Linked DNA regions of Homo sapiens. The protein of the gene in region 1 interacts with the protein of each later gene in a biochemical or structural test. Each region holds a gene or a part of one and is shown in the gene's direction. Other genes may lie near its edges.

Region 1 (7,396 bases):
GGTAGGAGAAAAAAAACTGCGAAGAGATGAGTTACTGAGAGGTCAGTTCATTAAGGAGGTAATGCTAAAGAAGGGGGGTTTAATCCTGAAGGTAAGGCTACTCTGCACACTTGTAATCATACAATTAATTTAATTTTTTATTTAATGACTATCTTCCCCAAAGGCTGTACTCCAAAAAGGCTAAATCTCACAGAGCTTTTATCCCTATAATTCCAGCATCTAAAATGTTACCTGGCACACGTGGGAGTTAATACATATTTGCTGAATGACTGAGTAACTGAAGAAACCCTATAAGAATTTTAAGGAAATGATATATAATCAGATTTGTGTATTAGAAAAATCATTCTGGCGGTAAGACAGAGAATGGTTTAGAGGTAATAGCTGTATTAGCTAGCTTAGGCTGCCATAACAAAATACCAGAGTGAGTGACTTATACAACAGAAATTAATTTTCTTGCCGTTCTAAAGGTTGGAAGTCTGAGATCAGGGTACCAGCATGGTTGGGTTCTGGCGAGGGCTCTCTTACTGGCCTGCAGACAGCTGCCTTCTCGCCACATCCCCACATGGCAGAGAGAGGGAGAGACAGCAAGCAATCCAGTGTCCTTCTTATAAGGGCACTAATCCCATTAGCAAGGCCGCAGCCTCATGACCTCATCTAACTCTAATTATCTCCCAAAGATTCTGTCTCCAAATACCATCACATTGGGCATAAGGGCTTCAATATTTGTATTTTTGAGGATACAATTCAGTCCACAGCTGTAGGAAAGGAGAAAAGACAGCAGGAGGTGAATGTAGTAACTTGCCTAAGAGATGAGGGTATAAACTAAAGTAGTGACAATGCAGAGGAAGAGGAAAGACTGAGAAATAGTAATCATTCCTACTTGGGCTGGAATTATTAAACTGTTAAAAACCTTCCTAGGATATTCTTTTTCCTGAATTTGAAAATTATAGACTTTTTCGTGTAGTAACTCTATTTGCACACCAGTTTTTTGTTTTTTGTTTTGTTTTTTTGTTTGTTTTTTTTGTTTTTTGAGACAGAGTCTCTCTCTGTCGCCCAGGCTGGAGTGAAGTGGCCCGATCTCGGCTCACTGCAACCTCCATACCCCAGGTTCAAGCGATTCTCCTGCCTCATCCTCCTGAGTAGCTGGGATTACAGCTGCCCACCACCACGCCCAGCTAAGTTTTTGTATTTTTGGTAGAGACCGAGTTTCGCCATGTTGGCCAGGCTGGTCTCAAACTCCTGACCTCAGATGATCCACCTGCCTCAGCCTCCCAAAGTGCTAGGATTACAGGCATGAGCCACCACACTTGGCCAGTATTTTTGTTTTTAATGTAGATGAATTTTCAAAATCAAACTGAGAATAAAGGGATATAACATTTAACAAACAACCACAGAATTTATTAAACATACAACATTACAGAAACATTTTAATATGCCATTGATATGTAGTCTTCAAAACGTTTTAAAAACTGTGGTAATACTAAAAGTGAAACTCATAGAATTTCAGTATTTTAAAGGGATAATAAGGGACGTTAACCACAAAATACAAAGCATTTCACTTTTTATGTTTGTCTTTTAAGTTAAATATTAAAAATTTTATATTTAAAAAATGTTTATTATTTATACAGCACATTAATCATCGAGACCCCCCTGCCCCCACAGCTAAAGTCATTCTAGGTCAGAATGCACGGATACTGCTCTCAATACTAGTATGTATTACTCCCAGTGCACACATATTGATAATCAAGGCTTGAACAGTTTGTGCCCTGGCTTATTGCTGGCAACAGAGTAATTCAGTCCGGAGTACAGAACATGTACAAATGCATTTTCATCAATATCTGGCTCTGATACACCCAGTCTGAGCCACCAATATCTGGCTCAGGCACTTATGATAATGGCCCAAGACACTGCTCAGGATCTTAAGGTAAACAAGTTGTCACCTAATTCTGTCAGCCCAGCAATCAAAGCACATTTTTGAGAGGGAATGTTCTGACTTCCGTATCAGTCGTGATATTTCCGAATAATTCTATACTTGTCATAATGAAACACAAGCACGCTTTTGGTATTGGCCCTTCAAAACATTAAGAAACTGGTGGTACCAACATACCATTTTTGACATTGTTGTATTTTAACATTTTTTCTGCTTTTGAAAGGAATACACGCTCATCATTAAAATATTTTGAATAATAAAATGCACAAAGAACAAAAACATTGTCTAGAATCTTGCCACTCAGAGACAATCATGTCATAATATTCTCATGTATTTCCTTTCAGATTTTTAAAATTGTGGGCATTTGTAATTTTATAAGGTTTGTAACTTCCTTCTGAAAACTTGTGTATTCAGATGTCTATGTAAATATGAATCTGTATTATGCACCTTAAATGGCTGTGTAGTTTTCACATCTTATGTACTATGATTTAACTGACCAGTGTAAATTACAGTGATCAGTTACACTTATTTAGTGCTTACTCTATGCCAGGCACTGTAATAAGCGTTTTGCTTGTACTAATTCATTTGATCCTCACAACCCTATTATTCCTGTTTCTTACACATGAGGAAACTGAGACACCAAGAGGTGAAGCAATTTGTCCAATCACTCAATGTGGGACATTTAATGGCTGGCAATGCTTTGATCCTTTAGACAATGTTGCCATGTATACCTTTGTTCATGTTTTAAAAGAATGTCTTTAGGATTAATTTGCCGAAATGGAATTGCTGGGTCCTAAGGTTTTAAAAATTTTTTTACATGCTTCCAAATATTTCCCTTAGGAAGATTATACAGTATTTACACTTCATCCAACAGTATGTGAGTGTCTGACTCCTCACATCCCTGATTCTTTGCAATTTTTTTCTTTTTTTGAGACGGAGTTTCGCTCCCGGGTTCAAACGATTCCCAGCCTCAGCCTCCCGAATAGCTGGGATTACAAGCGCGCACCACCACGCCCGGCTAATTTTTTGTACTTTTAGTAGAGACGGGGTTTCACCATGGCCAGGCTGGTCTTGAACTCCTGACCTCAGGTGATCTGCCGGCCTCGGCCTCCCAGAGTGCTGGGATTACAGGCGTGAGCCACCGCGCCCGGCCGATTCTTTGTAATTTTTACCTAAATGACAAAACATTATCTAACTGCTACTTTAATTTGCACATTTCACTTTTAGAGGTGGGACTTCATTTTTAATGAATTTTTAAGCACTCTTTGATTACTATGTATTAATCCTGTGTTGACATGTCAATATTAGTTTCCACGCTACATTTGGAGATGCCGTAATTTGCGGGATAATTTCCATTTACGTACAAGATGTGCTTACTAAGTTTGTTCCAAGTGGGACGCAACATCTCTAGTAGATGCTCCTTAAAACTTCTCCATCACACAGAGAATAATTTTTATTGGTTAACTAAACTTATAAGTAAAATAAATAAACCAACATTTTGGGTTGCTAGGAATCACTCACTGATCAACTTTTAGCTCCAGTTTTTTTCTGTTTTCTTTTTTTTGCTCAGTCTAGGGAGGCTATCTTGGGCTGTGAAAGACATGTCACCAACCATCACAGCTGCTGAGTGATTGCACGGTTAGTCAGTAGGTGCCAACGCCCTGCTAGAAGAGCTGTCTGCAGATTCCAAAGCCGGGCGTTCAGGGACTCCCGGGAAGGAGCCAGCGTTACCTCAGCCTCTCCGAGGGACACGCGCGCCCTGAACACTCCCCTCTTGGGATTCAGGCCAATTCGTTCAGCTCCCATGACTTCATCCGAGCAAGTTTGTCACCTCACGCAGCTAATTAAACTGTTTACCTAGAAGATGATCCAAAGGAATTTCCATTTCCTTCCAGAGGGAATACAAGGTTATGATAACCGAGAGAGCGAGAGGAAAAAAGGCGCACAGCTCGACCCGAACTCAACCTGCTTTCTTTCTCCTGGCTCTCCCAGTCACTCCTGGGGTTGTTAGTAGGCTTCAGCACGCCTGAAGGACCCCGTCCTACGGAGACTCCTAGCCAAGGGAAAAGCAGAAAACACAAGAACTAATTCCACTCTTATGTGTGACTAATTAAAAGAGGAGTCAGGCAGAGGGGACTCCCTGTTCAGCCTTTACCGATGGGGCAGGCTCGGGGCAGCTTTGAGACAGGCAGCGCCAAGGTCGCCCAGATTCCCGACAAGCTCCGCGCGGGGGCTTCCTCGGCTCCTTGCTGTTGCCGCCGCCGCAGCTGCTGCCGCGGTTGGTGGGGTTGGGTGAGAGGAGGAGCTGTCGCGGACCCTGTAGAGTCGGTCTCTGTTGCTCTTTTTGCCTGAGGAGTCTTCCATCCTACGTCGAGCTCTGACTCCCGTGCTGTCGAGAGGGAGTCCCCGGGGACACCTCGGCACGCAGCGGAGATGCCTCTTTTTGCCACCAATCCCTTCGATCAGGATGTTGGTAAGTGTTTTTGCCTCTCCCTGCCCATTCCTCACCGGACTGCACGCTCACTCTGCCAGCCCCTGCCTGCATTCAGGACCCTCGGGCCAGGGCCAAGGAAGAGCTCGCTCTTCCCCTTTCCTGAGGCTCCCTCCTTCAGAGCTGGGAGGAGGTTGAGGGCTTGGCGCATCCTCTTTGAAAGAAATGGGACTCATCCTGTGAAATGGGCCTTGAGCTAGGACTGTAGGTTGCCAAAGAACTGCTGAATGGGTTGGTGTAAAGGGCCTGGGAGGAGCAGCTGGTGTAGCATCTGGTGCAGGGACTGTGCTTCTGGAAGAACAGCGAAGGGCTTAAGGCGTATGTTGGCTAGATTAGGATTGTAAACCCTGTACCAAAAGTGCTTGCCTAGACAAATAAATGTTGAGCGTCTGGAACTGGCAGAATGTTTTAGGTAAGGTTCCTTAGAGGATTTTAAAATCTTTTGTAACGGTAACTGAAGGAGGGAGCTCTGGTTAAGGGTAGACTCTCAAACATGTTAGGAGCGATGAAGATGAAATACTTGGCAACGACTGAAACCGAATTGAGGACCTGAGCCTTTGGGATGTCTCTCTTAGGCTAGGTCTCTGCACTTTAAAAGGTGTAAAGAAGTGTGGAAGAAGTTGTTGAATCTGGAAAGAGTTTGAAATGCTACATTTTTGTTGTTTTCTGAATCACTGGTATTAGGTACTGATGATGTCAATTCAATAGGTTTGCTTTTGGTTTTTAATTTTATTTTATTTTATTTTTTTCTGACTTGAAGATAATAATTATGGGAATTTGAGTTTCCGGGGAGAGAATTTTGGTTTAATTTGAACGCACGTAGGAACTACCTTGGCACACAAGTGTGGAATGAAAGCAAGCCAAATACCATTTCCAAATCCCTTATGGCAGAATGTAATCATTACTGTGAATAAGGACAACCTTATGAATTTACTTGTCTTTGTGTATTTTAATTATGAAAGGTGGATGTTGAATTTTTCTTTTTAAACTCTTCCTTAGAGCATGTCACTGAAACTTGGAAGTTTATATAAGAGTAGAAAAAAGTTCACTCCTTACCTCTGCCACTTCTCAGCTCACGGTGAAATCATAGGCAAGTTAAATTCTTTGAGTTCCAGTGTTCTTGTCTTTAAAGAGGGGAAAACACATCATTCCATTCTGCAGTTAAATAATATGTCTAGAGGGCCTGCTACAGTACCTTTATGTGGTTGGCACTTACTAGATGCTACCTTTTTTGTTCCACCTTAAATGAGTGTCCTGAATCTTAGCAGTGGACAGAACCTTGGAGATCACCGATTATACTTAATGAATTGGAAAATTGCATTTAATTTAATAAGCAGTTAGCACACACTACAGGACACAGCAGCTCAGTGACATAAGAGATACAGTGATGAGCAAGGCCTAGTTGCTGTTCTCAAGCAGTTTTACATCTCACTACATGAATCTCTAGGGGAAATACTTAAAACAGCTTCTTAATACTTGCTTCTTCTGTTTACAGCACCTTTGTCTAGTTTTCTTGGTCCTGTATAATTTAGCTAGCAACTACCCAATCACCTTTATATTCTACTGACTTTGTGAACACATATTTGCATTGGATTCAGGTAAATTTCTTAATGTCAAACCCGTTCCTAGTAGCTGTACCACCCAGTTCAAACACAGGCACCTTCTTGCCTTTATGCTTTTGTCCTACGCTTATGCTTTCTTTTATCTTTCAACATATCCTTGTGTGTTAAGGCCAACTCAGAATCCAACTTGTTACACCTGAGTCATTTCCTGATTACTGTAGCAAAGGGTTTCTCAGTAGCAACGTTATTGACGGTTTGGGCCAGGTAAATATCTTTGTCATAGGAGTTTGTCCTGTGCAATGTAGGGTGTTCAGCCTTATCCCTGGCCTTTATCCACTAGATGCCGGTGACACCCAGCCCCCACTCATGATTTTAGAAGTCTCAGGACATTGCTAAATGCCCCCTGGAAGGACAAAATACCTCCCAGTTGAGAACCGCTGCACTAGTCCACTCTAATTTCCACCTTCTTACAAAATCCTCTAACTTATTTTAGCATTTTTGCCTTTACCGAATTATTTAGCATTCAAGATAGTTTTATACTCCTTAATGAGAGGTTGCTACATAGGAGGTGTTTAATAATGTTTGTTGAGTTGAGAATGTGTCAGTTGAGCCTGCCAGACATTATACTTCTTCAGTGTAGCAACATTGTTTTGCTCCAGAAAAGCTTACTTTTTAAAGTTGCTCAGGTTTTGGTATTGGACCAATTCTCTTCTCACAATCCTTGTATTGAAATATTACAAAAGGTTTATCTAAGAAGACCCCTCAGAGATTCCCAGTACATAAGCCTTGCACAGAGTCCAGTAGACTCATATTATTTTTTAATAGTATAACATATAGAATACAGTGTATAGAATACACTTAACAATTTTTTCTTTCACCATATCTACCAATGAATATGTCATAACATTAAAGTAACTCATTTGATACAGTTATTTATCACTTAACACTCGTATACATTTGCACATCTTCAAAATTAATTGTCTTCAGTCTTAATCTGAGGCTGAATCAGAAATTCACTGACTGATTTATATAATATAACATTTTTTATAAAGAGACACAATGCTGGTGATAGCTTTTCCCTTGGAAGAAACACCGAAAGATGTTACTAGAATGTGAGCTCTGTGAGGACAGGGATTTTTGTTTGATTTTTTCACTGCCGTATCCCTAGCTGTAGACCAGTTTTTGGCATGCTGAAGAACTTTCAGTAAACATTTATGGAATAAATGAATCTCATTTTGGACATTATAATTCAAGAGCTGAATTTAGAAGAAACGTAAAGATAACTTATTTCATCAAGTTTGTATTTCAAAGTCTCTAGTGACTTCCACCTTGCCAAATCCAATGGTCACTTTCTAGTCCATTTCTTTTTTGATCTCTTAAGCATTCCTCTTTGATATACAGTATTTTATTCAT
Region 2 (7,278 bases), on another chromosome or scaffold:
GCCATGCACTTGGTTTCAAGCTACCCAGAAAGCTGAGGCAGGAGGATCACTTGAGCCCAGGAGGTCAATGTTGCAGTGAGCTATGATCGCAACACTGCACTCTCCAACCTTGACAACAGAGCAAGACTCCTACTTTCTGAAAATATTAGAAGTCAAGATCTGAGCTTTAGTGTATTTGCTTCTAAGATCTTTCAGTGGTCAGGGCTTAGTTACATTTATGTACATACATATGCTCATTTATGTACATACATGTGCATATACGCATGGAAAAATAAACACACAAGAACAGCTAGTAAAACACTGAAAACTGTAAAAGTGGACTAGTCCTACCAGATGTTGAACTGTGTATTACAAAGTCTATATAATTAAAACAGTATATTACTGGTACATGAATCAAAGTCCAAAACTAGATCCAATATCAGTAAGATTATCAATAAACATAGTTTAAAAGATAGGAAATACCCTCTAAAATGCTATAAAAAGTCCTTTACTTTTTACCTTGAAATTAATCTATCATATCTTCTTTAGGTTTGCAATGAGAATTCCCTCTTCAAAAGTCTTTCTCGCTACCTGGTACGTCGAAAGGATCCAGAATTGTGGGGCAGCGTGCTGCTGGAAAGCAATCCTTACAGGAGACCCCTAATTGACCAGGTAACATTGGCAAATGTGTTTATGGCTGTCAGTAAAAATTATACATTTTTAACTATGAATACAATCCTTTCCCTCATCATGTACTCAAATGGATCATATATAACTATGAGAGAAAGCAATACAAAGTAGAAGAAAATTAAAATTTATATATATTCAATTTACATTCATTTGTATATAATGAATGTAAATTGATTATATACATTATATACAAATGAATGTACATTTATATAAGTATAAATATGTATATAACATACATTAAGAAAAATAAGCCATGTGCGGTGGCTCACGCCTGTAATTCCAGCACTTTGGGAGGCCGAGGTGGGTGGATCACCTGAAGTCAGGAGTTCGAGACCAGCCTGGCCAACGTAGTAAAACCCCATCTCTACTAAAAATACAAAAATTAGCCAGGTGCATGTAATCCCAGCTACTCGGCAGGAAAATCGCTTGAACCCGGGAGGTGGAGGTTGCAGTAAGCCGAGATCACGCCATTGCACTCCAGCCTGGGTGATAAGAGCAAGACTGTCTCAAAAAAACAAAAAGAAAAAAGAAAAAGAAAATACATCCCAAAAGACCTGACTTAATTATATAAAACTCTCTTGGTTCATCATAGTTTAAAAGGAAAATAACAAACTAAACATTAAAGATTGCTATTATTAACACTTAAGTGGCTAAATTGATTGGAAACTTCAAGATAATAAGTCAGAAAAATATAAGGATAAGAGAAAATACAAAAGACCAAGTGCATCAGTGTTATATCTTACTAATAAGAAGTATAGAACTGCAAATGAGATGGGGTTTTATACCTAAATAAAATAGACAACATATTTTAAAAGTTCTAAAAATAGAAGAGTTGTTATAATGAGTCTTAAATTCTCCTGAGATAAGTATAAATAAAATATTTTGGAAACGAATAGGTTGAAGGCTATTAATATTTCATTCCTTTCCTAGGAAGCACTTCTAAGCAACATTCCCAAGTAGTTACAAAGCTTCCTAGGGGAAGGTTGTGGGGGTGGGGGCGATGGTTGGAAATCATTGCAGCATCTAGAAAACCAAGCAAATAGCCAAAACCAGACGAATTACCGATATTTTAATTCCACATCTGTGTAGCTGAATTTTGAATTATGTGTAGCCATTAAAGTGATAATGATGATTGCTAGCCTGGATAATGTTTTAATCAGGGAAAAGATAGAAATTATATAATTAGAGTAATTTTTCAACACAATTATACATATTGTATAGATTTGTGTAGAAAGACCTCTCTATGTAAATTTAAAGGTCTTTTTCCTACTTCATTCTTTTCTGCCTATTTCAAGTTTTCTAATGAGAGGCCAACTTACGCTTTTTTAAAACCAACTTGATTCTCAGTACTTATGTCCCATATATCCTCTGTAGGTTGTACAAACAGCTTTGTCTGAGACTCAGGACCCTGAAGAAGTGTCAGTAACTGTAAAGGCTTTCATGACTGCAGACCTTCCTAATGAACTCATTGAACTGCTGGAGAAAATTGTCCTTGATAACTCTGTATTCAGTGAACACAGGTATGCTTTCAGAGGGATCCATTGGCTATTTATAGTCAGTCTTTAATAAATTATGGCCCATCAGTTTTGGGAAGGAACAAAAAGATCAGAGAAAGTTGCCTGAATTCTCACTCTTCTAATATCCTCCCCCCTACCCTACCTCTTGAGACAAAAACCTCTCCGTTAGTCACAGTGGTTATTTTTTATGTCGGATAAACTTAAAATATTGCATTTAAAATATTCTTTTTTTTCTTAAAGGAATCTGCAAAACCTCCTTATCCTCACTGCAATTAAGGCTGACCGTACACGTGTTATGGAGTATATTAACCGCCTGGATAATTATGATGCCCCAGATATTGCCAATATCGCCATCAGCAATGAGCTGTTTGAAGAAGCATTTGCCATTTTCCGGAAATTTGATGTCAATACTTCAGCAGTTCAGGTAAATCTTCAGATTACCTAAGTTGAATTACTAAACACTGTGCTATGAGGGTGGGCCTAATTGGTTGCTACGGCAATAGAGCAGCAATAAAATACTAACAGCTTAAATGTAATTGCTTTGGGTAGGATTGATTTTACTCTAACCCTAATTTCAAACTTGGATACTTAGGTCTTAATTGAGCATATTGGAAACTTGGATCGGGCATATGAGTTTGCTGAACGTTGCAATGAACCTGCGGTCTGGAGTCAACTTGCAAAAGCCCAGTTGCAGAAAGGAATGGTGAAAGAAGCCATTGATTCTTATATCAAAGCAGATGATCCTTCCTCCTACATGGAAGTTGTTCAGGCTGCCAATACTAGTGGTATGACTTCTTACCTTATGTATTGAAACCTCATAAAATGATTAAGCTAAGCATTAAGATATCTGTCTATTCTGAATTTTAGAAGAGTTGGATACTGCATGGTTTCTTTTAGTGCTCCATCTTAGTCCAGATAAAAAGAGGCTGTATTTTGTGAATTTGTAAGTTCACAAAACTTACAAGTGGGGAAGATGAATCTTCTGTTTTTGAAGTCTCATAAAATCCTGATAGTGCTCTAATCTTAAAACTTTAAGGAAAAAGAATTCATCTATTCATTTGGTCCGTGATAATACAGAAGTGAAATATTGCACGGTTTACATTTGTCATTATCCATGTTTCCTTGAAAAGGAAATGAATGCAATTTTCATTTACTTGGGTGAAAGATAAACTAGGATGTTAGTGTTTGGATATATTTTTTCTTTTTCTATACTTAGGAAACTGGGAAGAACTGGTGAAGTACTTGCAGATGGCCCGTAAGAAGGCTCGAGAGTCCTATGTGGAGACAGAACTGATATTCGCACTGGCTAAAACAAACCGCCTTGCAGAGTTAGAAGAATTTATCAATGGACCAAATAATGCTCATATCCAACAAGTGGGTTTCCTTTTCAGATTTAAGAAAAACTAGTTGGGCTACTTGATTAGCTTGGTAGGATCAAAACATCATAACTGAAGAATTCCAAGGAAAAATCTATAGGAAAACAAATTCTTTCTCATTGTGAAGATATCAATTTGAAAAGAGGATTAAGCTCACACTAATATCTTGCTGAATGTGGGTTACCTTTTTTTTTCCAGGTTGGTGACCGTTGTTATGATGAAAAAATGTATGATGCTGCTAAGTTGTTGTACAATAATGTTTCCAATTTTGGACGTTTGGCATCTACCCTGGTTCACCTGGGTGAATATCAGGCAGCTGTTGATGGGGCTAGGAAAGCTAACAGTACTCGAACATGGAAAGAGGTAATCTAAACCCAAGTTTGAGTGAAGAATTAAAGAAACGCTATTTAAACATTAGTTTAAATAACTAGCCATGTTTTACATTTGAGTTCACAGAAAGGAAATGTTTATTCTAGGTCTGCTTCGCCTGTGTAGATGGGAAAGAATTCCGTCTTGCTCAGATGTGTGGACTTCATATTGTTGTACATGCAGATGAATTAGAAGAACTTATCAACTACTATCAGGTATTAACGAGACTTTTATATGACCTGAGATCTTTTACCATAGATATTCTTATCTTTAACTGCACATTTCTCTTGTTCAGGATCGTGGCTATTTTGAAGAGCTGATCACCATGTTGGAAGCAGCACTGGGACTTGAGCGAGCTCACATGGGAATGTTTACTGAATTAGCTATTCTATACTCTAAATTTAAGCCTCAGAAAATGAGGGAGCACCTGGAGCTGTTCTGGTCTAGAGTGAATATTCCCAAGGTAACCAGTCATTGTAACACAGTGAAGCAACTGTGTAGTTAAAACTAATGCTTCAAAATATCTTATTCTTTTTAAGGCTGTTAGCTAGACTCATATCTAAAGCAATTAAGTCTTTCTTATGCAGGTGCTAAGAGCTGCAGAACAAGCTCATCTTTGGGCAGAACTGGTGTTTTTGTATGACAAGTATGAAGAATATGATAATGCCATAATTACCATGATGAATCATCCAACTGATGCCTGGAAAGAAGGGCAATTCAAAGATATCATTACCAAGGTGTGTACTTTCTTCAGAAGATAAAGGATTCAGAAGGAGAAAGCTCATTAGGAAGTAACTGACTTATGTATGGATTTTCCCATTGTAGGTTGCCAATGTGGAACTATACTACAGAGCAATACAGTTCTACTTAGAATTCAAGCCTCTGTTGTTAAATGATTTGCTGATGGTGCTGTCTCCACGGTTGGATCACACTCGTGCAGTCAATTATTTCAGCAAGGTAAAGTAATAATTTTAAACCAAAGCTTCATAGCAAGGAATTAGGACATACTTCGATAACTTTTGTCCCTGGGACTTCAATAATGTGCTATATTTGTAACAAACTCTTTATTTTAAAGGTTAAACAGCTACCACTGGTGAAACCGTATTTGCGTTCAGTTCAGAACCATAACAACAAATCTGTGAATGAATCATTGAACAATCTTTTTATTACAGAAGAAGATTATCAGGTAAAACCTTTTGATTCTTGCACATAATCTCAAGACTCATAAAGTTATGTTTTCCCATTTTTTAAAAAAGCCATTATCCTTTAGGATTGTAAACAGTAGGTGCTTGCATACCTAGGATCTAAATTTAGTAAGATTTCAGGATTGATAAATCTTCTAATTAAGTGCCAAGTTTTCAGAATTTTGCTCAGATCTTGTATAAGATACTGCTTTTGAAAAAAATGATATGATTACTTTATCTCTAACATCTAGATTGTAGGTAGAGTCAAAAATGTCTTTGACCACTTAACTAATTCATAAAATTTATTTGGTATTAACTATATTTATTCACCATTTTTCTTGCCTACTGTTTTATTAGTGTTTGTATAAACTTTCTCTTATGAAGGATTTCACAAGCAAAAGTGAAGTAGAGTTAAGCTTAAGCTACTTGCCTTTTTTTCTCTCTCTTCATTTTCTTTGAGGCTCAGCGCATGCAGATCTGTACTGCTGCCATGCTGAGTTTTATCAGAAGTTTCTCTAGAGCACAGAATCTTGCCCTCCATGCCAGGCGTGGTGACTCACGCCTGTAATCCCAGCACTTTGGGAGGCCAAGGCAGGCGGATCACGAGGTCAGGAGATCGAGACCATCCTGGCTAACACAATGAAACCCCGTCTCTACTAAAATACCAAAAAAATTAGCCGGTTGTGGTGGCACGTGCCTGTAGTAGCAGCTACTCGGGAGGCTGAGGCCGGAGAATCGCTTGAACCCTAGAGGCAGGTTGCAGTGAGCCCAGATTGCATCACCACTGCACTCCAGCCTGGGCAACAGAGGGAGACTCCATCTCAAAAAAAAAGAAAAAAATCTTGCCCTCCAAATTAGAAATATTGTCCATTTCATAGCCATATGTTAGTCCTTGATAGTGAAAATCTTGGAGAAAATGGTATCTTTAGGTAAAATGAAAAATCATACCTTTTGATGCTTGAATCTAGGTGTCATATTACATGTTACCATCTAAGGGGCTCATTGATTGAGAACGGAATATAATGTTAAACAAAATACTGATCTGGCATTTGGATGGCTTTTTTTTTTTAAGGCTCTGCGAACATCAATAGATGCTTATGACAACTTTGACAATATCTCGCTTGCTCAGCGTTTGGAAAAACATGAACTCATTGAGTTCAGGAGAATTGCTGCTTATCTCTTCAAAGGCAACAATCGCTGGAAACAGAGTGTAGAGCTGTGCAAGAAAGACAGCCTTTACAAGGTTGATAAAGTTGCGGGGCAGGGGCTGTTTTAAACCAGGCCTAAAATGGTGTTACAAGTGATTATAATCTATAAATAAAAGTATTGGTTTTGTGAATATGAGAGCTGACTTTAAGGCAATTTAAGTTAATGGATTTCTTGATTCTAGGGGCTCTCTTATGTTAAGGTCAAACTTGTCTGGGGAAAAAAAAGCTTTTAGCTTATCTCTTCTTTGAAAATTTTAATTTAAATGATACAACTAGGAGGCTTTTTTCCCCTTGCAAAACCAGATTTATATTGGAAAGTTTCCATTGTTTTTCTTGGTTTACTAGTTCAGTATGTGGGGTCTAATGTTTTTGACTTTCACTATTTCTTTGAATAGGATGCAATGCAGTATGCTTCTGAATCTAAAGATACTGAATTGGCTGAAGAACTCCTGCAGTGGTTTTTGCAGGAAGAAAAAAGAGAGTGCTTTGGAGCTTGTCTGTTTACCTGTTACGATCTTTTAAGGCCAGATGTCGTCCTAGAAACTGCATGGAGGCACAATATCATGGATTTTGCCATGCCCTATTTCATCCAGGTCATGAAGGAGTACTTGACAAAGGTAATGACTCTTCTAAGTGTATTCAGAACTAGTTTCCTTGCATGTAAAATTCTACATGCACATTAATTTTTTTAAATGCTTTTTTCTTTAGTAGAAGTAAGTCATTTAGTCGATCATAAAATATTCCTGTTCTTTTGAAATTTTTTTTTAATAGCTGACAAATGACACTGATTGGAAGGGGAACTCAAATGTAGCTGTTTACCCTCAGTGTATTTATGAGGGTGAAAATAATCTATGTATTTTTTTATTTAAAAAACTTTGATAAATTTTATTTCAAAATAGTATTTTTCTCAAAATCAGTTCTTGTGACTCAAATATTCATGACTAGTATTGTAGAT
Region 3 (8,122 bases), on another chromosome or scaffold:
TTCTATCACAACCCCAGAAAATAATTTGGCTTATGTTTATATAATGTTTAAAGAAAGCAACAAGGTGGGTACATAAAAATCTTAGTGCCAAAACACACACACACACACACACACACAATCACTGTTGGCCAGGCACAGTGGCTCACACCTGTAATCCCAGCACTTTGGGAGGCCTAGGCAGGAGAATCACTTCAGCCAGGAGTTCAAGACCAGCCTGAATGACAAGGTGAAACCCCATCTCTACAAAAAATACAAAAATTAGTTGGGGATAGTGGTGCATGTGTATAGTCCCAGCTACTAGAGAGGCTGAGGTGGGACGGTCACTTGAGCCTGGGAGATTGAAGCTGCAATGAGCCATGAACATGCCACTGTACTCCAGCTTGGGCAACAGAGCAAGACCCTGTCTCAAAAACAACAATAACAACAACAACAACAAAACCCACAAACAAACAAAAACCACTGTCCTTGCTAGTCCTTTATCCTGTTTTATTTTTCTTCTAACACTTCTAGCACTTAACAACACCTGACATAGTCTACGTGTATTTGCTTATTGTATGTCTCCTCGACTAGAATGTAAGTCAGCTCCGTGTTGAGCAGGAATTTTATATTGTGAATCTAAAACAATGCCTGGCATAGAACATGCATTCAGTAAGTACTTGTTAAATGAATGGAAGATGAACCAGATTTTGGACTACTGCTTATGCTGGATGGCATGTAAATTGAAGCTGTGATCAAATACAGGCCATGCCTCTAAACAGCTGATGACCGCTTAGATTCTAGGTGCCATAGATACTGCTGCCTGGTTTGTTACAATACTTTTTTTTTTTTTTTTTTGCTTTTACTCTTTACTATTATTCATTACTGGATGGTGGGTGAGGGGAAAAATACAGAATACATGCCCTAGTCCAGTGCTGTCCATTAGAGCTTTCTTTAATAATGGAAGTAGCCTGTATCTGCTGGTCAATAAGGTAACCAATAGTTACCAGGGGCTGTTGAGCACTTGAAATATGGATATTTTGACTGAACTGAATTTTTAATTTTACAACTAGCTGTGGTTACTAGTTACTGTATTTAGCAGCCATACTCAACAATCCTATAGGTCTATCTTAATTACTTTTATAGGAATGAAGAGTATTATAATTATTTCTCAATTATATATATTTGGTTTTAATTTCTACAGAGGAAGAGGACAACAAAGTTTTGTGAACTATTATTCATATAAGTTTGTAGTTGTTTAAGGAAAAGACTTCACAGAGAACAGGGCAGAGAGTAACACAATATCTGATTTCCAAAAAATTCAATCAAACTTTGATATGGATTTGGTCAAATCATTGTTTAATGGCCTCCTTAACATTATTATTAAACTGATTTATATAATTTGCTTTTTACTAATCAAATACATTGTTTTAAATCTTAATTATTTTTTATTATAAAAGTAATACACATTCAGTGTAACAAGTTCAAATAATCTCTCAGGTGGATAAAATACGGACATCCACCACACTGTACCTACCAAGATGCCCATACCCCAAAGATGATTGCTGTTAAACATTTAGAGTGCCTTTCCTGACTTTTTTGTCTAAGCACCTTTAAAAACCAATACTTTTGGTTTTCAGTGATAGCTCTGAATCCCCTTTAGGCATAGAGTGTGGGAAATTATATTTCTGCAGCAAACTCAGGCTCTGCAACATCAAGTGTGGATTCACTGGAAATTATTTGAAGTAACACTTAGAGATCATAGTAGCCAAAAAATGTTGGGAAATTAAAAAGGGGTTTTTAAAAATTAATTATCGTTATTATTATTTTTTTCAAAGAGACAGGGTCTTCACTCCATCACCCAGGATGGAGTTCAGTGGCGGAATTACAGCTCACTGAAGCCTCAAACTCCTGGGTGCAACCAATCCTCCTGCCTCAGCCTCCCAAGTAGCTTGGACTACAGGCATGCACCAACTGTGCCAGGCTAATTTTTTAATATTTTGTAGGGATAGGGTCTTGCTATGTTGCCCAGGCTGATCTCAAACTCCTGACCTCAAGCAATCCACGCACCTCAGCCTCCCATAGTGCTGGGATTACAGGAGTGAGCTCCCACACCCAGCTGAAAAAGGTTTTTGTGGAGGGAGTATGATCAGGAGAAAAATCATGGAATGTGCTCGAAAGAGATCTAAAGGGCCATGGAAGTCAAAAGGTTGAACTCCATAGAACAAAACATGAAGTATGGAAAGATTCTTTAAAAAACACTTGACTTTGGAACAAAATCCAAATTGTTCCCATGATTTCATTCTTTGACATTATGTTCATTTTGGTTATCTTAGTCTTTTCTCAGAATTCCTCTTTAACAGAGAATTATCTAAAAGCCCCTGGCTAAGTTAATGCTTATGACTATGGTCACAAATGGATGGCTTGGATTTTATTTGTTTTGCAGTGTTTGTAAATTTTTTTATGTATACTGTTGTTGTCAACTAACATAATCCGTATGTATATGGGTTATATATATATATATATATATTCCCCAAATTTAAAAACCAGTTTGGAGATTTTTCCCACACACAGAAAATCAGAAAATTGGCAATACTCTGCCCCATTACCACATGGCAACAATGTAGACAGGCCATGAGTTCTCCACATGGCCCTAATCCCCACCACTCTTAAACAAATCTAATCAGTTTTATGTATATTATATATGTATATTGCTGTGCTTCTCCTTCCTGCCTGACCCTGCAAGACCCCTGTCTCAGTCTCTCTCAACATGTCTGAAGGACTCGAGGGCAGGTGTCAAAGGTGAAGGCCCTCATCTGGATTTAATGTCCTGGACCTTGAAACAGCAGCTAGTGTTTTGAGCTCTAAGCTAACACTTTGGACTTTCTTTTTTTTTTCGAGATGGAGTCTTGCTCTGTCGCCCAGGCTGGAGTGCAGTGGCACCATCTCGGCTCACTGCAAGCTCCACCTCTCGGGTTCACGCCATTCTCCTGCCTCAGCCTCCTGAGTAGCTGGGACTACAGGCGCCCTCCACCACGCCTGGCTAATTTTTTGTATTTTTAGCAGAGATGGGGTTTCACCGTGTTAGCCAGGATGGTCTCGATCTCCTGACCTCGTGATCCGTCCGCCTTGGCCTCCCAAAGTGCTGGGATTACAGGCATGAACCACCGCGCCTGGCCACATTTTGGACTTTCAGTCATGTTTTCTTTCCCCAATGAAATAGAAAAGTTTTATTTCAAAGAGGAAAAGGGTGCAACAGCTGCAACATACATAAAACCTATTTAGTTTTACTTGGGAGTGGGAATCAGGAAACCTGGGTTCTGTTTTTGACTTAGTTTGGATAAAGAAGGGTAGTTAAGCTGTCCTTATGTCTCTTACCAAATGGAGAAAATACTGCTGTAGTTCACAGCAATTTGGGGAGTTTTAGATTCTATGGAAAATGGAAATCCTATTTGTAACTTAGATTTTTTCTTTGGAGAAGGAGTCTCGCTCTGTTGCCCAGGCTGGAGTGCAGTGGCACGATCTCGGCTCACTGCAACCTCCACCTTCCAGGTTCAAGCGATTCACTGACTCAGCCTCCTCAGTAGCTGGGATTACAGGCACGCGCCACCATGCCCAGCTAATGTTTGTATTTTTAGTAGAGACCAGGTTTTGCCATTTTGGCCAGGCTGGTCTCAAACTCCTGACCTCAAGTGATCTGCCCACCTTGGCCTCCCAAAGTGCTGGGATTACAGGCGTGAGCTACCGCTCCCGGTCTAATTTTTAAATTTTTGTTTTGTAGAGATGAGGGTCTCCCTTTGTTGCTCAAGCTGGTCTCTGTCTCTTGGGATCAAGGGATCCTCCTGCCTCAGCCTCCCAAAGTGCTGGGATTACAGGCCTGGGCCACTGCAACCTGGCCTTCATCACAAATTCATTGAACACACTTTCTTTATTTTATCCTTTTTTATTTTTAAAAATTTTTATTTCAGTAGTTTTGGAGGAACAGGTTGCATGGAAAAGTTCTTTAGTGGTCATTTCTGAGATTTTGGTGCACCCATCACCCGAGCAGTGTACACTGTACCATGTGGCACACACTTTCACTTAAAGCATTTACTAGACCTCGCTAGCCAGATTTCCCATCCCTGAGACACCTGGAATGTTCCTGAGGACTTAGTGACTACTGCCTAAAGCTCCACCCAAGTCAATTTTATGTTTACAGGCAACCGGAGCATCCAATCACCTTTCTCTAAGAGAGTACAAAGATCAGCTCGCGAGAAAGTTCAGACGTCTCATTTCGTTTCTATTACACGGGGCCTTCGCCCAACCAGACGGAGTCTTGCTCTGCTGCCCAGGCTGGAGTGCAGTAGCGCGATCTCGGCTCATTGCAACCTTCGCTCCCCGGGTTTAAGCAATTCTCCTGCCTCAGCCACTGGAGTAGCTAGGATTACAGGCGCACGCCACCACGCCAAGCTAATTTTTTGTATTCTTAATAGAGACGGGGGTTTCACCATGTTGGCCAGGCTGGTCTCGAACTCCTGACCTCATCATTTGCCCGCCTCGGCCTCCCAAAGCGCTGGGATTACAGGCGTGAGCCACCGTGCCCAGCCTCGCCGGGGCCTTTTAAGTGACGTTAAAAATTGTACATAAAATATGTTTTAGGATAATACTTGTTTTTCTTTGACCAAAGGCTTGGCTTCAGAGAATGTTTAGCCAGAAATAGAGGGGCGTTAAATCCCCTTTTTTCTAATTTCCAATCTGAGGAGGAAAATAACGTAGTAAAGGGACGCAAGAGCAACCTTGCTTCTTCCACAACAAGGCCCAGGCGCCGCCTTGCAACCCGGAAATGCAGGGTGCAGTGCGGGGGGTAAGGGACCGGCCAACTATGTTGACCCGACTCAGAGAAACCCCGCCCTTGCCGCCACCGCCCACCCATAACGTCCTCCTCGACCCTCCCTCGACCATCCCTCGCCCCGCGGCCCTCACCGAAAAGGGGAGGGCGGTGGAAGAGAGAGGAGTCAAGGGAGCGCACGCGAAGCCCCGCCCCTGCCGTGACGTCTGGAGACGCGACGCGTCGCCTCGCAATGCAAATCGGGAAAAGGGGGTGAGCTGGGCTGGCTTCCGTCCTGGTAGCCAAGGCTAATTCTCCCTCGAGTTCTTGGGAGATGGGCATTTGGCGAGAAGGCTGGCGTTAGTGAAGCGCGCCCGGCGTCACGGTGAGTGCGGGTCTTGGGCCCTAGCACCTGTTCTCTGGGAAGTCGTCCGCTGTGAACGATGAACGCCTTTCCTTCCACCAGCTGCTGGTTACCCCGGAGACAAGCTCTGTCCGCGGAGAGGAGTGGGACAACTCCTAAAGGTAGAATCAGCTTGTGGAGAGGAAAGGCCCAACCTTGAGTCTTTTACGCCATCTACCTAGGATTGCCAAGCGAGTTTCGTGTGTTTTTTTGGTTTTAAAAGGTGGCTTTGACCAATCTTCCGTTCTCTTGGACACTTATACCCGACTTTGACCTCTTTCCTCTTGCTTCCGGTTTTTTTTTTTTTCTGCAATCTGCCTACAATCCCAGGCCTTACTGTAGCTCCTAAAACTGTTTCCCAGTTTCTCTTCTTCCCCAGTCACACTTGATTTTAGTGAAGTTTGAGTTTAAAGACCCTATAAGCTTGTCAGAGTTAAAACTATGACTTCCTCAAATAGAAGATTTTTTTTTTTTCCCCTAAAAAGTGCCTTCCATCCTAGAGTTGTGGGACAAGTTAATTTCACCGCCACTCCACCTTGGAAATTATCAGAATCCTTACTAGCAGTGATGTGCATTATAAAGCTGCAGACCACCCTCCTGGGTTTATTTCTTGCCTCCAGTTCATTCTGTGACCTTGAACAAGTCACTTAATCACTAACAAAAAATTTACCTGACACGGAGGTGTTGCAGAGCCTAAGGAATTTAGTATTTGTTAAGAGACCTGAGGGTTTCAGATGAAAGGGATTTATATCTAAAGGATGTTACCTTTTCTGAATCTGCAAAGCATCGTTAGTTTTGTAAATATCTTGCTGCAGCCATTAAAAATGCCAAGTGGTATTTGTTAAGGAAGTATTCCTGTTTTAGGCTTGCTCTGCTGCGGCTTTGCTATGTAAGCAGATTTTTGCATTTCAGCCGATTCTGTTTAAGATTCGTTGGTGAATGTCATTCATGATGGATTTGGGTAGTTTCTCCTTACAGCATATCCCTGGACTATTAAGCATATCTGGAAGGTGATATCGGTTGTGTTATGTCTTTATCATGTTGATATGGCTGCTTTGAAATATGTATTCCTTTTCTTGTGACACATTGGATGCATCTTTAATATTAGTGAAGACCCTGTAGTAGTTTAAAAAAAAAATACACCTCTCATTAATGAAATTTTGCACATAGACATCTGTTTTTTTAAGAAAACAATGTATAAGAAAAACTAACAAAAATGTTTTAAAGGTGCCTTTTTTAGCATTTCGTTTTTTAATATATTTACTTGGACTTTAATCTTTATGGGCATTTGTTTATTAATGTGGACGTGGCTGGGCGCAGTGGCTCACATCTGTAATCCTAGCACTTTGGGAGGCGGAGGTGGGCGGATCACTGAGGTCAGGAGTTCGAGATCAGCCTGGCCAACATGGCGAAACCCGGTCTCTACTAAAAATACAAAATTAGCTGGGCGTGGTGGTGCACGCCTGTAGTCCCAGCTACTCTGGAGGCTGAGGCAGGAGAATCGCTTGAACCTGGAAAGCGAAGGTTGCAGTGAGCCGAGATTGCGTCATTGCACTCCAGCCTGGGTGACAAGAGCAAAACTCCGTCTCAAAAAATAAAAAATAAAAAGCGTGGACATAATGGAAAATAATCAAAATGACTTTTGGGTAAGACAGTTGGAAAATAAAGCCAGTACATTAAATTTTTTTCATAAGTCTAGCACTATATTACGAACTTTTCTCCATGAAAATGCACTCATATTTATGGAAGTGAAAGGAAAAAAATGTCTTCAGGTATGTGTTGCTAATAAAATTAGATATAATTAAGGAAACATTTAAAAAATACCTTGTTGTTGTCCCAGTTACCTATTGCTGCATAACAAATCACTCCAAAACATAGTGACTTAAAACTGTAATTTAGTATCTCTCCTGTTTCTCTGGCCTGCCTGGACTTAGCTAAGTGGTTTTCACCTAGAGTTTAATGCGTTTGTATTCAGATAAGCAGCTGAGTTTGGAGTCAACCGAGAGCTCAGCTGGTCTGGACATCCAAAATGGCTAATTCACGTGAAGGCGTTTGATGTTGGCTAGGAGTTCAGCTGGAAATGTCAACTGGAATGCCCACACATAGCCTCTTCACGTGACTTGAACAGTATGGCGGCTAGGTTCCGAGAATACATGTTTGAGGAGTCAGGAAGTAGAAGCTGCCAGTCTCCCAAAAAGCCTGAGCCCAGAAATTCGCACAACATTACTTCCAACATACTCTGTTGGTTAGAGCAAAGACCAGCGTACAACCCTCACCTTTGAAAGGAAAAATGTCAAAGAATTTGTGGCCGTGCTTTGCCTACTATAATTTTGATGACAAAGTTGTATTGGACTCTTGTTTGCATTTATATAGCAGATGAAGAATCAGGTACACTTCCAATTTCCAGTTTCTTTCTTTCTTCTTCTTCTTTTTTTTTTTTTGAGATGGAGTCTTGCTCTGTTGTCAGCCTGGAGTGCAGTGTACGATCTCAGCTCACTGCAACCTCTGCCTCCTGGGTTCACGCCATTCTCCTGCCTCAGCCTCCCGAGTAGCATGTCACCAAGCCCAGCTAATTTTTGTATTTTTAGTAGAGATGGGGTTTCACCATGTTGGCCAGGATGATCTTGATCTCTTGACCTGTGATCCACCTGCCTCAACCTCCGAAAGTGCTGGAATTACAGGCGTGAGCCACCGCGCCTGACCCATTTCCAATTTCTTTAACCGTAATACTTTATGTTGTAATGGCATATTACAGTTTTCAAAGCATGTTTTTGTATATTTTTTCACTTGATACCTATGGTCACCCTATAGAAGCAGACAAATAGTTCCTATTTCATTTTGCAGATGAAAGTAAACTGAAGAGTGGTGGTGGTATTGGGAGTGATTTACGGAATTTGTTCAAAGTCATATGATTAATAAATGGAAAGTAAGGCCTG
Region 4 (7,278 bases), on another chromosome or scaffold:
AGCTGATCAGGGACTCACTGTGAGAGATTCTTCTCCCATAGTGACGCTGCCATTTGGCTTGATCTGATCACACCCTCCCTATGCTTACCGGTTCCCCACCAAACCTGCACACAAGTCCAAGCCCACTGGCCTGCCCAACAGGACATTGATGATCCATCCTGGCCCTCCTCTTCCACCAGCAGTGAAGTGACAATGGGTTAGAGGGTAGGGGGAGAGAGAGAGGAAAGAAAGGTTTGGCCAAAGATAGACAGGGGATGTCAGCCAAGGGGGTGACCCTGAGCCAGTGTTTCTGGCCTCCTGGGGTGCTGAGCAGAGATGTCCTTTGTGTCCAGCTGGACTCTGCCCCCAAGGGCAGGCCTCAGGGCACTGAGGCGCCTTCCACAATCTGCAGAGTGCTCTCGAGTGCTTGGCACTGTCTAAGCGCTGTACACATATGCACATTCACACATGTACCCATTCAGTCGTCACGGGAGCCCCATGAGGGAGGCACTGCAGATCACAACCCCCAATCCACATGTGCCAAGCCCAAGCTCTGAAAACCTAACATTGCTTCCAAGTTTAATGCAGAATTCATTTATTGGCAAACCTGACCCAAACTGATGCGAGGCTATTTATGCCTTATTTAGCCTCTTGGTGAGAATATTTGTGTTTTCCTACAGAGGTATTAATGGCTTTAATAATAAGGTACAGATCTTGCAGAGGTCATTACAGAATATATGGAACATGTACCATTTTGCCTATTTTATTTTATTTTATTTTATTTTGAGACAGAGTCTCGCTCTGTTGCCCAGGCTGGAGTGCAGTGGGATGATCTCAGCTCACTGCAGCCTCTGCCTCCCAGGTTCAGGTGATTCTCTTGCTTCAGTCTCCCGAGTAGCTGGAACTACAGGGGCCCGCCACCATGCCCAGCTATTTTTGTATTTATAGTAGAGTTGATGTTTCACCATGTTGGCCAGGCTGGTCTTGAACTCTTGGCCTCAAGTGATCCGCCCACCTCAGCCTCCCAAAGTGTTGGGATTATGTGCATGACCCACCACGCCCGGCCCATTTTGCCTCTCTATACTTCGCAATTTCTAAATTCCAAAGAATACCTGGTTCTAGGAGTTTCGGACCTAGGTTATTATTCTTACTAGCAGATGAAGAAACAGAAATGGTCTCTAACCTGCCTAAAGTCACCAGCTGGGTCTGTTATACTGGCCTGGGATGGGGGAAGGGTGGAGCGTGGTGGAGGTGGGCAGTGCCACCCTCTAGGTGCCCGCCTTTCCATTTTTCTCAGGATGATTTTAGATGAACAGATGGTTGGATCTGGGCTTGGGCTGGTGTTTGGGGCACAGAGGTTTGGGAGACCAGGTTGGGAGAGGCCGCTTACTCTCTGTCCTTTCCCCAGATGGTGTGGTCCTGGTGGATCCTGAGTATCTCAAAGAGCGGAGAGGTAGGCTGTGGCCCCCATCCCCAGCCTGTCAAGGGCCGCCTCCTCTTCCCCCCGGACCTCTAGCATAGGAACTCCCTGCCCATCCCCACTGGTTCCCCTGAAAGCCCCAACAAATACCTCTACAGATGCCGTTGCCTCCTCCAGCCTGGGACGGCCCTGCCCCAAGCTTACTTTGGGAGAAGGTTTCCCCATGCCCTGAGCACTTTCACATCAATATGTCATGACTGTGGCAAGGCTGGGGATGCCAGCAGGGTAGGAGTAGGTTCTTCTTTAACAGAACAGAACATTGATACCGGGGCAGTATCAATGCGCAGGAAGACAAGAGTGCAGACTGAGCTGTGACAAGACGCTTGCCGTCCAGATACCACCCAGCACTTGCCCTGCCCCCACAACTCCCTGCTCCTTCCCCAGGTCCCCTACCCCCACCCCAGGCCTGCCAGACTACTCCAGCCCCCGCCAAGCCTGTCAGACCGTTTCCATACCCCTCCACATATGCCCTGGGGAGAGGTGGGAGGGGGAAGGACAGAGCTGGCTCAGCAGGCAGCCCCCTCCTCCTCCCAGGGGCCAGGCCATGGCATCCTTCCGGTACTCACTACCAGCCCTCCTGGTGGAGACAGTGCAGCCATCCCCACAGAGCTTGGGACAGGCTTGGGGCCTCCAGTGGGGCCCGTCCCAGGGCTGCTGCCGGCACTCTGGGGGGCTCGCTTGCTGCTCTCCCAGGCCCCTCCTCAGTGCTCCTCGCTCCCCACAGTCTATGTGACGCTGACCTGCGCCTTCCGCTATGGCCGGGAGGACCTGGATGTCCTGGGCCTGACCTTTCGCAAGGACCTGTTTGTGGCCAACGTACAGTCGTTCCCACCGGCCCCCGAGGACAAGAAGCCCCTGACGCGGCTGCAGGAACGCCTCATCAAGAAGCTGGGCGAGCACGCTTACCCTTTCACCTTTGAGGTCAGGAACTGCCATCCCTGGGGCCCCATTCCAGAAATGCCACCTCTAGGAAGCCCTCTGGGGTGGGCATAAGAGGGCGGTGAGGGTCAGCTGCTCCCTGCCACCCAGTTTCCCAGTGTATGCTGGGACCTGGGGCACTGTCACCTGTGTTACCTGGTAAGTGTCTCTTCTCCAGCCCCTGCTGGGGTTTGTCACCTGTACCTTTGGGCTACTCCTCAGACCCTTCTGAGGCCAGGTCATTGGTGGGAGAAAGGGGGTGCTAAGGGGCTTCAGAGAAAGAAAGAGCCCTTTCTGGACCCTGCATCACTGCAAGGGGTTTCCCGCTCAGATCAGCTCCCCACTTGCCCGGCAGCAACCCAGCTCGCAAGAGAGGGATGGCAAGTAGGTGATCTGTCTGCCCCACCACCTTTCAAATCAGAGACTTTAAGATGCTGGATTTCAAAATCTCAAGTTTCTTAGGCTCTCTGATTCTGAGATTCAGTGTGGTCTCTCCCTTTCTTGGAGGCTGAGAGAGTGGAGAGGGTCATGGAGTCACCTTTTCTACGTAGACATGTTAGCTCCCTATGGCTGCTGAAACAGATTGCCACAAACTCGGCAGCAATTAAAACAACACAGATGTATGAGCTTACAGCTCTGGAGGTCAGAAGTCCCAAAACAGGTCTCAGTGGGCTACCATGGAGGCGTGGCAGGGCTGGCTCCTCTGGAGGCCCTCGGGGAGCGTCCACCTTTTCCAGCATTGCTTTCCTTGGCTCACAGTGCCTTCCTCCATTGTCAAAGCCAGCAGTGGCCGTTGAGTCTTTTGTACATCCCATCACTGTGGCTCAGACATTTCTGCCCCCTGCTTCCACTTCTAAGGACTCTTGTGATTATACTAGGCCCACCAAAATCATCCAGGATACGGTCCCCATCTCAAGGCCTTAATTGGATCTGCAAAGTCACTTTTGTCATTAAGGTCCCAGGTTTGGGCGATTAGGGTGTGGACATCTTTGGGGAACATTATTCTGCCAACCACAGTAGACATCATAGAAAGATCTATTTAAACCATTGCTGCGAGGACTGGGCTGGGCCAAACCCTTTAGATAAAGAAAGCTCTTTATCTAAAGAGTTTTAGATGGGGCATGGCTTGGCATGGTCTGATGGGATAGACATGGCCTGTCCCCTGGGGCCCTTGGTCTGATGGGTGTATGGGAGTGTCTGGGCTGCAATACATGAGACAGGACAGTGGTGGATGTGACAGGTGGCTCGTTCTGTCCTCTTCTTGACAGATCCCTCCAAACCTTCCATGTTCTGTGACACTGCAGCCGGGGCCCGAAGACACGGGGAAGGTAGGTCACCCCAAGGGGACCATCTCTCTGGCTCCAGGAGTCTCATGTCCCCAGGTCCCTGGCTTTCTCCCTGGGAGGTGCTGGACACACAGGACCACTCTCCCTGTTGAACAGTCTTTGTGTCTAGGCTAAGCTGGTCCCACCTTGGACAACCAGTCTCTCTTCAGACAGGGCAGCAGGTACGGGGTCAGCCTCACTCTCCCATTCAGTGATGGGTCTGGAGGCTCTCCTGGGTGGCGTTGGCTGCAACAGGACCAAAGTGTTCTGAGGACCTACACCTGGCCTCATGTAACCCCTGGCAACCTGGAATCAAAGTGCGATCATCCCCATTTCACAGATGGGGAAACTGAGGGTTGGAGAGAAGTGACACCACTAGCTCCAGAGCTTTGAGCCCAGCTTCCTCATCTGCAAGATGGAGATAACAGCACGTGCCTCCTTGTCTTGTTAGAGGAATACCGGATAAGCCACCCAGGGCCGGGTGTGCACACAGTAGTAGGCGCCCCCAGTCTGCTCAGGTGCCTGTTGCTATTTCTGGGCAGCTGCCTGGATGAGGACGGCCACCCAGACTGAGGCAGGAATCCAAAGAGCAGAGCCCCGTTTGGGTGGTTCGAGATGTCCCATGTCAGATGGAGGAGGCAGCACAGCATTGGGGCTGAGCACAAGGGCGTTCCCCCGCTTCTTCCAGACCAAGGAAGGCTGGGCTGTGGGAGCTTGGTGTTCCTGTCCAGTGTCCTCGTTTGTAAAATGAGAGGTGGGCTGGCTGTGTACTGGGGACCCTGCTTCTCCAAGGCCCTGTGGTCAGTGACCCCTTCCCCACAGGCTTGCGGTGTGGACTATGAAGTCAAAGCCTTCTGCGCGGAGAATTTGGAGGAGAAGATCCACAAGCGGTGAGTAGGATGCCAGGGTGTGGGCCGCCTGCTGGGTGAGGGAGGGAGACAGGATGGGCAAAGTCCAAGAGGAGATAAGTAACAATACCTGGAAGTGTGTGAGGAGGGGCGCACATTCCAGCCTTGGAAGGGCACTCTGGAAGCTGGGAGGTCACGGAGGGCTTCCTTGGGGAGGTGGCTTCGACTGCCTGGGTTCAGGCTGCAGCATCTTCTCCTTTGCACCATTGTGGCAGCTTCCTCCCTCATCTCCCTGCCTCTCATTTCATCCCCTCCAGACTGCATGTCTTTTTAATTTGTTTTGGAAAAACCCTAAATTCAGATTGTGTTAAACAGTGAGCAGGCTGTTTCCTGACCATTCTCATTTTCCAGTTTTCCTCCTGGGAGGCGTTCAGCAGGAGTGGAGTGTGTGTCAATGGCAGCTTCTAAGTGAGGAGGAAGTGGAGATAGTGAACCCATCCAGGGGAGAGTGACAGGGAGGTCGGCCCACATCTAAGAGATGGGAAGCGTTCTCTGGAGAAGAACAGCCCGGGCAGACAGAGAGCCCAGGCTGGCAGCCAGAAACAGCTGGCCCGGATGTCTCATGCCTGCCCCTCCTGGGTCGGGCTGTGCTCTGTCTGCCTCCTGGAATAGCTGGTGGGCCCTCGACGCTGATGTGCCTGCATCCAGAGGCACTGGTCCCAGAGGAGGTTGGCTGAGGGCACAGCAGCCTTTTTAGGGCGTGGGCTGAGTTTGCCACCTGGTGGCTATAGGGTGTATTGCATGCATTTGCATCTGCAGCCCTGGCAGCTGTGTGTGAGGAGATGGGACTTTTCTCCCTTGCTTCTCTGTCTCCCTTTTCCTCTTAAGACCTGAGACCAGGGAAGAGGAAGGGTGCTGTGGGATGTGGGAGGAGGCTTGGTAAGCACAAGAAAGAGGAGGTGACATCGAGAGCCACCCCTCTCACCCTACCACCAATGGGACATTTAAAATCCACACCAAGGAGTTACTAATAATAATGATATAGAAGCTATCATTTATCAAGGGCTGATTAGGTGCCAGACACCATTTACAGTGCTGGGCTGTATGAACTAATTTAATCCTCACAGCAGCTCTAAGAAGTACGTCCTTGCTGGGCGTGGTGGCTCACACCTGTAATCCCAGAGCTCTGGAAGGCCGAAGGCAGGCATATTACTTGAGGCCAGGAGTTCCAGACCAGCCTGGCCAACATGGTGAAACCCCATCTCTATTGAAAATACAAAAATTAGGCAGGTGTGGTGGCATATGCCTGTAACCCCAGCTACTCAGAAGGCCGAGGCAGGAGAATTGCTTGAAGCTGGGAGGCAGAGGTTGTAGTGAGCTGAGATTGCGCCACTGCACTCCAGCCTGGGCAACAGAGTGAGACTCCATCTCAAAATAAATAAATTAATAAAAATTTAAAAAGGAGAAAAAGAGGTAGGTCCTTCTGTCATCACCCTTTACAGATTAGGGAACAGAGGCAGAGAGAGGTTAATGTACCCAGGGCCACATAGTTAGTAAGAGGAGAGCTGGGAGTTTGACCCTGGCTCCCTGGTTACAGGCAATGGAGGCAGCTTATCTGAGCAACGGAGATGCCGGCATTCCCAGCATGCCACAGAGACGGCCTCACCAAGTCCCCCTCCCTCACCAGATCCTCATTTGCTCCCTGATCCCCTGTAATCTTCATGGAGCCAGTCTCATCCATGGGCCTTCTCCCCTCCCTGGGCTTGTCCCCTTCACTGGCTTGCATCCCCCTGACTGAATCCACGCCTCCTCCCTGAACCCCAACGCCTCCCCAAGCCCCATTTCTTCTTGAGACCGCTGTCCCCTCTGCATAGTTTTACATAATAGATATCTGGCAGTTGTTTATTATATGGCAGGCACAGTCATAGGTGCTGAGAGTACAGCTGTGAACACCTTAGACACAAATTTCTGTCCTTAAAGAACTTACACAAATAGTGTCCTATGTCACCAAAATAGATGACAGAGGGACACTATTTGTGTATGGTGACATAGGGAGTCAGGAAGTGACAATGTTACCTATTTGGTGACATAGGGAAGCAGGAGGTGAAAAATGTAGTCCCTGTTTCAGCATCCTGCTGGGTACCAGGACCAAATGAAGTGCAGCCACAGGGCACTTCTGGGACAGAACAGGGGAGGATGGAATGGAGCCAGATGGTGACAGACCCCTATGCTGATCTCTGCAGTTTGGCTGGATTCTAAGGTGATGGAGAGCCATGCCAGTCTCTTGAGCAGGAGAATGATGTGAGGCTCGCAAGGAGAGGGGATGAAGGCAGGTGACCCTGGTCCTCTTTCACTCCGCCCATCTCCATTAGGAATTCTGTGCGTCTGGTCATCCGGAAGGTTCAGTATGCCCCAGAGAGGCCTGGCCCCCAGCCCACAGCCGAGACCACCAGGCAGTTCCTCATGTCGGACAAGCCCTTGCACCTAGAAGCCTCTCTGGATAAGGAGGTAGGAGGCTCGGACTTGGCAGGGGGTGGGGGCTGCTCCACCAGGGCCTGGGCCTCAGATCCCAGCTCTCTCCTGGCCTGCAAGGATGCCTCAGGTAGGAGCTTCTATCCCCAGCCCAAGGACCACAGGGGTCAGGGAATCTGAGACCTCTCATGGGGGATTTGGAGAAGCCTCTTGGGCCTAAAGGAGTGGCAAAGGGGGCATGAACTTGAGAGATGTG

Evidence for each region.
Region 2: the proteins of STAM (region 1) and CLTC form a complex in vitro, tested with the Homo sapiens proteins (one study listed by BioGRID).
Region 3: the proteins of STAM (region 1) and USP8 form a complex in vitro, tested with the Homo sapiens proteins (2 studies listed by BioGRID).
Region 4: the proteins of STAM (region 1) and ARRB1 form a complex in vitro, tested with the Homo sapiens proteins (2 studies listed by BioGRID).

Annotation. Positions count from the first base shown.
Region 1 is NC_000010.11:17,639,977-17,647,372, forward strand, and holds the start of STAM (signal transducing adapter molecule 1), read left to right. Parts: upstream 1-4,174; 5' UTR 4,175-4,363; coding exon 4,364-4,403; intron 4,404-7,396. UniProt on the Homo sapiens protein: Involved in intracellular signal transduction mediated by cytokines and growth factors. Upon IL-2 and GM-CSL stimulation, it plays a role in signaling leading to DNA synthesis and MYC induction. May also play a role in T-cell development.
Region 2 is NC_000017.11:59,678,869-59,686,146, forward strand, and holds part of CLTC (clathrin heavy chain 1), read left to right. Parts: intron 1-528; coding exon 529-651; intron 652-2,043; coding exon 2,044-2,189; intron 2,190-2,426; coding exon 2,427-2,610; intron 2,611-2,778; coding exon 2,779-2,971; intron 2,972-3,402; coding exon 3,403-3,560; intron 3,561-3,760; coding exon 3,761-3,925; intron 3,926-4,038; coding exon 4,039-4,146; intron 4,147-4,226; coding exon 4,227-4,394; intron 4,395-4,518; coding exon 4,519-4,668; intron 4,669-4,756; coding exon 4,757-4,888; intron 4,889-5,006; coding exon 5,007-5,117; intron 5,118-6,187; coding exon 6,188-6,358; intron 6,359-6,718; coding exon 6,719-6,940; intron 6,941-7,278. UniProt on the Homo sapiens protein: Clathrin is the major protein of the polyhedral coat of coated pits and vesicles. Two different adapter protein complexes link the clathrin lattice either to the plasma membrane or to the trans-Golgi network.
Region 3 is NC_000015.10:50,419,347-50,427,468, forward strand, and holds the start of USP8 (ubiquitin carboxyl-terminal hydrolase 8), read left to right. Parts: upstream 1-5,058; 5' UTR 5,059-5,168; exon of another isoform or gene 5,169-5,308; intron 5,309-8,122. UniProt on the Homo sapiens protein: Hydrolase that can remove conjugated ubiquitin from proteins and therefore plays an important regulatory role at the level of protein turnover by preventing degradation. Converts both 'Lys-48' an 'Lys-63'-linked ubiquitin chains.
Region 4 is NC_000011.10:75,278,389-75,285,666, reverse strand, and holds part of ARRB1 (beta-arrestin-1), read left to right. Parts: intron 1-1,387; coding exon 1,388-1,432; intron 1,433-2,183; coding exon 2,184-2,380; intron 2,381-3,645; coding exon 3,646-3,705; intron 3,706-4,524; coding exon 4,525-4,592; intron 4,593-6,922; coding exon 6,923-7,058; intron 7,059-7,278. UniProt on the Homo sapiens protein: Functions in regulating agonist-mediated G-protein coupled receptor (GPCR) signaling by mediating both receptor desensitization and resensitization processes.